Linked DNA regions of Homo sapiens. The protein of the gene in region 2 interacts with the protein of the main gene of each other region in a pairwise test. Each region holds a gene or a part of one and is shown on either strand. Other genes may lie near its edges.

Region 1 (4,931 bases), on a different chromosome or scaffold from region 2:
CCCTATCTCATGAAATACAGAACATGTGTTTCAATGAATGATGTTAATACTCAAAGTACTGGTTTTGAACCCTTTATAAAGATATAAATAATCCATGAATTATATTGCATGCTACCTGTCAACAGAGATTCCTGTTCCACTCGCAGTTCACGAAACAGAAGAATCAAATCAACAGCAACACCAATCGTATCCAAGTTCCTGGGTTTTTTAAAAAAGACAAAATTAGACATGTTCATTCATTCATATATTGTCTATGGCTGTTTTTGCACTACAATGGGAGAGCTGAGAAATCTGACAGAGATTACAAAGCCTAAATTATTTATTATCTGGCTCTTTACAGGAAAAATATAGCAACCCTAGCAGTAGAGGTTATATTTACATGCAGAGCTAACTGCTTCCAACAGCTTTCTTTGAGTACTTCCTGAAGTTTCCCATGACTCAGATTCTTTGCTTTATTGTATTTTACCCCATTCCATGCATTCTTGGCAAAAACAGTCCCAGTCCACACAAAGTGCAAAAGATGTAAAAAGATCTAGGCTTTAATAGCATCACACCTTTTGATGAACTCTTTAACGACTTAAAGTAAAACATCAGAAAAATATGTACTAGTTGCAATCTGAATCTTGACTGGCTCAGAAATACTGGCCTTAGTTAAGCTTGGCCACAAAGTCTTTACTAGAATCTTTGTAGTATTTCTAACTAGAAAATTCTTTTCTGAAAATTGCTGCCCTAAATGGTTGAAATTTTCCTTTAAAAATCAACAGTGAATAATAATACAATCCTAGAAGGGAAGAGGCAGAAAAATTAACACCCTTAAATGTTCATTTTCATTTCCGCCCAACCATAAGTTGCATGCAATAAAAAGATATCACAAACAGCACAGCCCTTGCTTTGCTGGCCCTACCAAAAGACCACCGATAACTTACTTGTCATAGTATTTATTTTTGTAATGTTAGAATTTTTATAGTTTGCATATATTACTCAAAAAAGAAAATAAAAATTGACTGCTTTGAAAGAAAGTATTAACATAAACTTGTGTTGTACATTCATTCCTGAGGCAGAGGCAGAAACATTTAATGTTTACTGAGCACACAATGTGCATTAGGCATTTACATAAGTAATCTCATTTACACCCCATAACCAGCCTGTTTGGAAGACATTGCTTACCTAGTTTTACAGAGGACAAAACTGATACTCAGGAAGACCAAGTCACCTGTCCAGGGTCAAGATGGAGCAGTCATCCACAACAAGACCAGTGTGTAAGGCTCAGGACAGCAAGGGTAGACTGCATTTTTTTTTTTGAGACGGAGTCTCACTCTGTTGCCCAGGCTGAAGTGCAGTAGCCCAATCTTGGCTCACTGCAACCTCCGCTTTCCCCGTTCAAGTGATTCTCCTGCCTCAGCCTCCAGAGTAGCTGGGACTACAGGTGTGTGCCACCACACCCAGCTAATTTTTTATTTTTAGTAGAGACAGGGTTTCACCATGCTGGCCAGGCTGGTCTCGAACTCCTGACCTCATGATTCACCCGCCTCGGCCTCCCAAAGTGTTGGGATTACAGGCGTGAGCCACCGCGCCTGGCCCAGACTGCTTTTGAGCTTAAGCTCAGAACAGTAAGGGCAGACTGCTTGTTAAGCTTAAGCTTTAGAGTCAGATGTCTGGATATGGAGAGAATGTTCCCAGCCTCTCTCACTTAACAAGTGACTCTCAGACAAGTTATTTAACCTCTCCAAGTTACAGTTTCATCTTTTGTAAAAATGAAAAAATTTCTTGAGTTTGTTCTAAGAATTAAAGAAGATACTACAAGCAAAACCCTTGGGACAAAGCCCAATGCCGAAGGCAGGCTCAACGAATGCTCACTCCCTTCCCCACCAAGATTAGCCAAGCACAAAGGTGTATCTGCCAGCCACAGTCAAAAGTTAGTTCTACGGCTCTCCTTTCCTTCCCCATCACACTAGAGCACCTTGTGACTGGAAAAGGACAAAAGAAACTAGCCTTCTGGCCAGATGCTTCTAGCATATAACTAGTTATGTTTTAGAATGTAGACTATTATTATCAAGATTATTGTTGTTTCTATCCATTTATCCTCAAATGGATGGCAGGTTTGGTTTAGTATTGAAGTTACACGACTCACTTTTTACCCTCTCTCCTTTGATCTTAAAAATCTCATTAATCATATCAAAGCCTCGGGTATATGTGTCTAACCGAAGGGAGTCCCTCAAGTGGCTTCTGGACCAGCCCAAGCTTACCCGTCACAGTGGTGACAGGGAAGCCTGGAGGCTCTGTCTACATCCAAGTCCAGGAAGGAAAGTGAGCATCCTGTTTGTGGCTTCTGACTTCAAGTAAAAATTTTTAATAAAAAGCAGGTTCCACAAAATCAAAGAAGAAAGATGCTGTGTTCTGGGAGGAGACGGTAACACGTAAAAGCAAAGAAGAGCACTGGACAGCTCGCCTGCTCATGTTTTAACTACTTTTAAAAATGTGCGCATCATAAAATAGGTGGAAGCAGAGCTTGGAACTTTACATGATCTTTAGGAAAGACAGGTCATCTTGTAAATTTACAAAATATGCTTCTTGTCCAAACACAAGAGTAACAAATTAAAACATTAAAAGTAATTAAAACATTTACAACCTGAGGTCAAGAACTGCATATAAACTTAGGCAGGTAAAATCTAGGAACAAAGACTCAAAATCAGCTTCAAAACACTATGAAGAACCAAATACCTCAAAACATGTGATAAAAACAAACAAGAAATCTAACCCCTAATGTTAAACACACTCCATTATTTTATACACTAGTCAGAGAGACTCCAATGGCAAGGCCTGTAGAGGGCCTCTCCCAGCAGATGTAAAGGGCAATCCTGCAATAACAGTGGGTGATACTATCATGCCAGAACAACTTTTTTTTTTTTTTTTTCCCTGAGACAGGGTCTCACAATGTGGCCCAGCCTGCAGCAATGGCATCATCTCAGATTACTGCAACCTCTGCCTCTCCCTGGCCCAAGCAATCCTCCCACCTCAGTCTCCTGAGCAGTTGGGACTACAGGTGTGCGCCACCATGTCCAGCTAATTTTTTGTATTTTTTTTGTAGAGACAGGGTCTCACCATGTTGCCCAGGCCGGTCTTGAACTCCTGGACTCAAGCAATCCTCCTGCCTCAGCCTCCCAAAATGCTGGGATTACAGGCATGAGCCACCTTACCCAGCCCAAAACAACTTCTAACAGATAAACCAAATGACAGAACCAGCATGCACATATACAAAGAAACAGAATCCAAGGTACGTGTGTAACTACCTGATTGAATTCTGGTTCACAGAACACTCTATGCAAGCATTGCGAAGACACCTGAAGCATTCTGTTATTAACTGCAGACTGGAAGCCAGGTTTTCCACTTGGGATGGATCTCTGCAGGCAAGCTCAACAGCATGAGAAGATTTCTTTAGGATATCCAGAACTCTTTGGAAGATAGTCCTGGGTGCTGTTTCTCTGAAAAAGGATAAAATTATCACGAATCAGAAAAAAAAGATTATGATTTCCAAATGTCCTATTCAGAAAACTGCTTTTATCTACTATTGTGGGGAGGTACGCTACGTTTATCTGCTTTAGCTCCTTAATTTACAACACCAAATAAAAGATCTACACATATTGAGCACTTACTATGCACCAGACACTGTTCTTGTCACTTCTCATGTATTATCTCAGTCTCTGCAACAGCCTTATGAGGCCAACACTGTCCTCTCCATTTACAGATAAGGTAAGTGAAGTAGAGATGGTAAGTAACTTGCACAAATCACTCAGCCAGTAACTGGCAGAGACACAAGGCCAAGTGAAGCACTCTGGCCTGAGCACTTCCACTACCCATGACAACCCAAATCCCAGTTCCAGTGACTGCTCATGCTTATGGATCTACCCTGAATCAGAACAGAGTATCTTTATTTAATGTTCTAGACAGAGAATATATTCTGGTCCTCTGTCACCCAATATGTAGCTAAGTTCAGTTATAAGAAACAATATTCCTGTAGGACAAGGATACTATCTACTCTGTAGACACAGTGAGGCTGACAACACACACACCAAACTTCTACAGTCAACTACATAGATGGGAGAGAAAGGAGAGGGGGAGAATGTAAAGTGTGCCTGTTCTTCCACCAAGAATGTATGCCCAGGGAGAAAGATGAACCTGTGGTTGTACCCTCTGGGCATCTCAGTCTCTGCGTGCCTCTCATGCCAGGAGTACTGCCTGCACTGGCTATCATTCCAGAGCTCTAAAGATAAGAATTTTTTGTGCAACATTGCACCTAAATGCAAGCCAACTTCCTCATTCCATAAATCCCCTAAAGAAACAGCAAATCTCTTTTAACGTTAGAAGGAAAGTTGCCACATTGGACAATTTAAGAGATTCTATAAATGCCAAATGATTCAGACCATATGAATTTTCTCCTTCTGCTCTCGCTGTAGATTCACAGTGCCCTACCTTTCACCCTTGGATTGAGCCAGACCAGCAGGGAGCCACATGTTCATTCAGAACTCTGGACACTGAGCTGCCCAGGTTACAGAGCTGCTCAGTTGCCGCAGAAGACACCTATGGAAGCCCCTTTTCCGGGGGCAGAGGAAACACGTCTTTCCTTGAACTTCAGTACCATGGCTTCTTATACACCAAGTGATGTGTGTTTTTATCTTACGAACAGACAATAGAACTCACATTATTTATTATGTTTTCTCTCTGTCGGGGCCTTTCTTAAGTCTGGAGTCAAATTTATGACCCAAACAACATGAATCCTTACTTTTTCTATCTGGCTTTTCCACTACCCCTAATTTCCCCCCTTATCTTTTTCTCGTATTTATTTTTTAAGGTATCTCAAACTTGGTTTTGAAAGAGGCAGAGTATAAATTAATTAAAAACTGGGAAACTGCACATAAAATAATTTGTCTATG
Region 2 (4,931 bases):
TTCATCCAAAGCATTTAAAAACACAAAAAGCTTCTAGGAAGTGCCCAAAATGGTATCATGACTAATAAGACTTGCATGAAAATGAAATTGATTTATAAATAGTGTTAGCTTCCTCCTGTAATTTACACTTACGGCAAAGAGGAAGTCTTTTCAGAGCATTGTGGACTGATACTTAACGGCGGTTGATAAGGGTGATGAATTACCTGTGACAAAAGAGGAAGTCTGGCTCAGACTCAGGGTGATACAGGGAAAGGAACACAGACAGAAAGTCAGGCCACCTGGGCAGCAGCCCACGCCCTGCTGTAACTGGCACACACTTATAGGCAGCTGCTGCCCTCTGCCAGGTCTGGATTGACTGAGTCCACCAGCGTCCCTGTGGTTAAACTGTCCTGGCCAGAGTGCCTTGAGGAGCTTCTTAAACAGAAGAGCACAGCTCTGCATCCATCACTACCTGCTGGGAAATTGGGGACTTTCTTGGCATGCCAGGGTTCGTGAGACATTCCCGTCCAAAATACAAAAACTCACTAGAAAAGCTGGAGATGCTTTAAAAGGCCTGCAGGTCAGAGGCCCTGCAAGTCAGAGGCCTTTTAAAGGTCTTTCAATACTTCCTGACAAAAGTGATGAAAGAGCAAAAACAGCCAGCCCTGGGGTCCCGCCACCAAAGCCCTGCCTGTGTTAGGCAGGTGGGAAATTTTGCAGCTCTTGCAGTGAGCTTCCAGGGTGGCAAAGTGGCAGGCGTCTCCTCCTCCAGCACACCCCCACCCTGCTCATCCCCCTCCTTGCCCAGGGACAGGAGGGCGTTCCCATAATTAAGCTCATCTGTAGAACTCCAGCACACAGCAGACGCTCCAAAGCATTCACGACCGCAATTTCATACAGTTCCAGAAAGGACAGCACTGCGGACACTGTCAGGATGAGGTGACAGAGGTCACATGGTTTCTTGCCTCACGATTAAATTAGAAAATTCCACATTTATTCCAAAATTGGCAGAATCCATCTCCAGGCTTCACAAATTGCCAAGAAACGCTGCTTTCTTGGAACTGCCAAAATTCAAAACCCCTGCCACAGCTTTCCTAACCCCACAATTTTTGCCAACACCAGCCACCTCTAGAAGATTAAGGTCAGTTTAAAATGGCCTTGGAGGCCGGGCGCGGTGGCTCACGCCTGTAATCCCAGCACTTTGGGAGGCCGAGGCGGGCGGATCACGAGGTCAGGAGATCGAGACCATCCCGGCTAAAACGGTGAAACCCCGTCTCTACTAAAAATACAAAAAATTAGCCGGGCGTAGTGGCGGGCGCCTGTAGTCCCAGCTACTTGGGAGGCTGAGGCAGGAGAATGGCGTGAACCCGGGAGGCGGAGCTTGCAGTGAGCCGAGATCCCGCCACTGCACTCCAGCCTGGGCGACAGAGCGAGACTCCGTCTCAAAAAAAAAAAAAAAATGGCCTTGGAACAGCTCAAAAGAAAAAATGGACAAAACATATAGACAGTTCACATTTGGCCAATAATATATGAGAGAGATATTCAACCCCATTCATAATTAAAGATACAGGAATCGAAAGAGGCCTTTCAGATGGTCCAAAATCAAAGCATTTCATTAAAACCCCAGGGCCCATGAAAAGTAGGAGAATCAGACATCGTCACTCACTACTAACAGGGTCATAAATGGGGTAAGCAATGTGGCAATGCCCATCTTTTGGGGCACCTATTGGCAAACCCTAGCAACTATACCGCTGGGAACTGATTGTACAAATACAGTAAGATCCGTGTACAAAAACAGTAACTGTAGCATTAATTGTAATAGGGAAAATCAGAAATAACTTAATATCTGTATGACTCTGGCTTAATAAATTATGGGCCATCCACATTGTAAAATGGAATATTATGAGGCTGATAATAAAATGGTAGAGAGGTAGCTCCATAAATATTAACATGAAAATGTATATATAGAATGAAAACAGGTACAAAAATACTTATAATATGGACCCATTGTGGTTTTTTGTTTGTTTGTTTTGTTTTGTTTTGAGACGGAGTTTCGCTGTGTTACTCAGGCTGGAGGGCAGTGGCGCAATCTCGGCTCACTGCAAGCTCCGCCTCCCAGGTTCACGCCAATCTCCTGCCTCAGCCTCCCGAGTAGCTGGGACTACAGGCGCCTGCCACCAGCCTGGCTAATTTTTTTGTATTTTTAGTAGAGACGGGGTTTCACCATGTTAGCCAGGATGGTCTTGATCTCCTGACCTCGTAATCCACCCATCTCGGCCTCCGAAAGTGCTGGGATTACAGGCGTGAGCCACCGCGCCCAGCTGGACCCATTTTTAAAAAATTACATTTGTACATATTTTGATATGCATAAAAAAATTCTGGAATGAGATACATACAAAACAAGATTCACAAGATTCACCCCTGGGGACCAGCCTGGGAAAAGGAGGAAGAGATCTTCACTTTTTATCATAAATACTTCCCATAGTGTTGCTTTCTAGCTTGTGTTTTTTATGTCTGCATGTATTTCATGTCAATTATTAGTAACCTCAGAGAACTGGGAGTGAAGGATGGAAAACTCTGGTCCACTCAGTCTCAGGGTCTCCATCACTGAAACCACTGAGACAGGACAGGGTGCTGGACAGGGGTACTCCTGCTTTGGAGGGAAGGTCAGATGAGTGATCACTCAGCTCCTCCAGCGCTGACACTTTGCAACCCTCAGATACCACAACCCCAGGTGACGCTTGTTCTCACGTTCCTGCCAAGAAATACAAATGGCCTGGATAAAGGTGGGTGTAGACATCTAAATATGGTATGACAACTATGCTGAGCAAAACAGCCCAAGGCTTTGACTCCGATCCTTTGGCTCTTAATTATTTAGCTCACTGATTAAGGACAGGACGTTCTTTTCCTTCAAAGACCCAATGGCACATTCTCTCTACGCACTTTCAAGAGCCCTCTGTCCAAATTCGTGTCTTGGTCAAAAAGAATGCTCTGCCCTTATAACTTTATTTCTGTATTACCCCCCACCCCTACCACACCCCAGCAATTGGGAGGTGGGCATATATCACCTGGGTGTTCCAGGGCACTATTAGGAGACAATATAGCTCAGCAGGTAAGAGCGCAGGCTCTGGAGGTATTCAAATCCTGCCTCCACCTTCCACTAACTCTGTGATCAAAGACAGGTTACTAAGCTCTCTGCACTGCAGTTTCGCATCTATTTTATAAAAAGGGATGACATCAGCACAGCCACCTCATAGGACTGTTGTGAGGCAGTAAATGTAAAGTACTTTTCAAAGCACATGCACCAAATAAAAACCACGTGCTAATTCTGTGACCACAAACTGGTTCCAGACAAAATCCGGTCTTTGAATAACGTCTCTTGCCAGAGGGGACTTTGTATATATCACCTATTTAAATAGTACCTTCCCAAAAAGACAGAGGCAAAGAATATTACTAGTTAAAATGAATACAGAACTATTTGAAGGCTATGCCTACATTCCACATTCTCATTTGCCCAAAATCTGAGCCCAAAGAGGCCACCCCGAGACTGGTGGCATTCTGGCATTGCACAGAGTCCAATGGTGGGACATTGTTTTGCCAGAACAGTTGTCTGGGCGCCTGTCTTGTCTGGTGCCCATTATCCTAAAACCCTTGTTGCTTGTCTCCTGTCTTGTAAACTGAAGACCTACAGCCTAGTGAGATCCATGAACGCGGAGGACGACTTCATCAAAAAGTGAGTGTGTGTGGCTAGGGGACAGAGGGCAAGGGGAGAGGTGCGAGGGCTTCCAGGGAGCGAGGCCGGGGAGGGGAGGGGGGCACAAGTGCGTGCCAGCAGGCAAATGGGGGTGTTGGTTGTGTCTCCCATGCAGGGTCTGTGGTCAACTTTGTGAGCCAATGCAAATCAGCTCACACTCAGGAACAAACAGGCCTCCTTACAGAGCAAAGTGCCTGTTCTAACAGCCTATGGCTATTTCTGGAAAGCCCCAGCATTCAGCATCAGCCGAAAATTTTAAGTTGTTGCAAGAATCACAACATTTGGTCAGTGGGTTGAAAAATCCACTGTAACCATGACCCTGTAGCCATGACCACCGGTGTGAAAATGCTTCTGGCTTCTCTCCTGATGGAGCCCAGTCCATCTGGTTCCTCCCAACCTCTCAGCTGGGAGTGGGAGCGGCACAACGCGCCCTGCATCCCTCAGTGTGCAGAACAGCCTGTGGGCCAGACACTGCTGAGGTTTTAAGACTCCTGGGCCACATACCTCATTGTGAAAAGTGTCAGCCTGGGTCTGGGTCAGCCCAGACCCAGAGCTTTCTACAGGCAGAAACTCACTACTCAACATATCCCTGGCTGCACAGACCCCACCCCAACCCCAGCTGCTAAGGGCTTGTTGGGGTGAATTACAGGTAGGGAGACAGACAGGGGAAAGCTGTGGAAAGAGGAAGAGGAAGGGAACCCACAGGAAGGGAGGTCAGGGCACTTGCTTCGGACCCCAGCAGCCCCAGGGCCCAGTGTGGCCTCCTAGGGGGCACAGATTCCCTTCAGGCGCTGGTGCATCCTCTGATCAAGGAGCAGGGCCAGTGTGGGTGTGTCCCCTCGACACACAGGCATGGGCCCCTCTCTCTCTCCAGACCCTCCCTCACAGCTCAGAAAGCGAACATTTCAGAAACAGCCATCCGATAGGCACCTGGGCCTCTTCTGAATGAAGAACCTGTGACGTCACTGAACGGCTTTGCTTGGGTTTTGTCCCAACTCTTTTTTCCCCACACACCCCGTTCCAGTTTTAAATGAGTGGGCTTATTATACAATACATTGGTCCAGGGTTCAATAAAGTGTCAAAATTGTGACTTTGCCCTTCTCAAGGAACAAGCCCCAAAGCTGCTAGTGGGTGATTCCAGGGACTTCCTCCTCAGGACCCCTCAAAAGCTCCAAGATCCCACGCCCGGGCTACCAGT

What was found. The genes of interacting proteins can lie anywhere in the genome.
Region 1: the proteins of LPIN1 (region 2) and ATXN10 interact in binary tests that used the Homo sapiens proteins (3 or more experiments, as listed by UniProt).

The regions. Positions count from the first base shown.
Region 1 is NC_000022.11:45,688,263-45,693,193, reverse strand, and holds part of ATXN10 (ataxin-10), read right to left. Parts: intron 3,483-4,931; coding exon 3,291-3,482; intron 199-3,290; coding exon 116-198; intron 1-115. UniProt on the Homo sapiens protein: May play a role in the regulation of cytokinesis. May play a role in signaling by stimulating protein glycosylation. Induces neuritogenesis by activating the Ras-MAP kinase pathway and is necessary for the survival of cerebellar neurons.
Region 2 is NC_000002.12:11,748,942-11,753,872, reverse strand, and holds part of LPIN1 (phosphatidate phosphatase LPIN1), read right to left. Parts: intron 1-4,931. UniProt on the Homo sapiens protein: Acts as a magnesium-dependent phosphatidate phosphatase enzyme which catalyzes the conversion of phosphatidic acid to diacylglycerol during triglyceride, phosphatidylcholine and phosphatidylethanolamine biosynthesis and therefore controls the metabolism of fatty acids at different levels.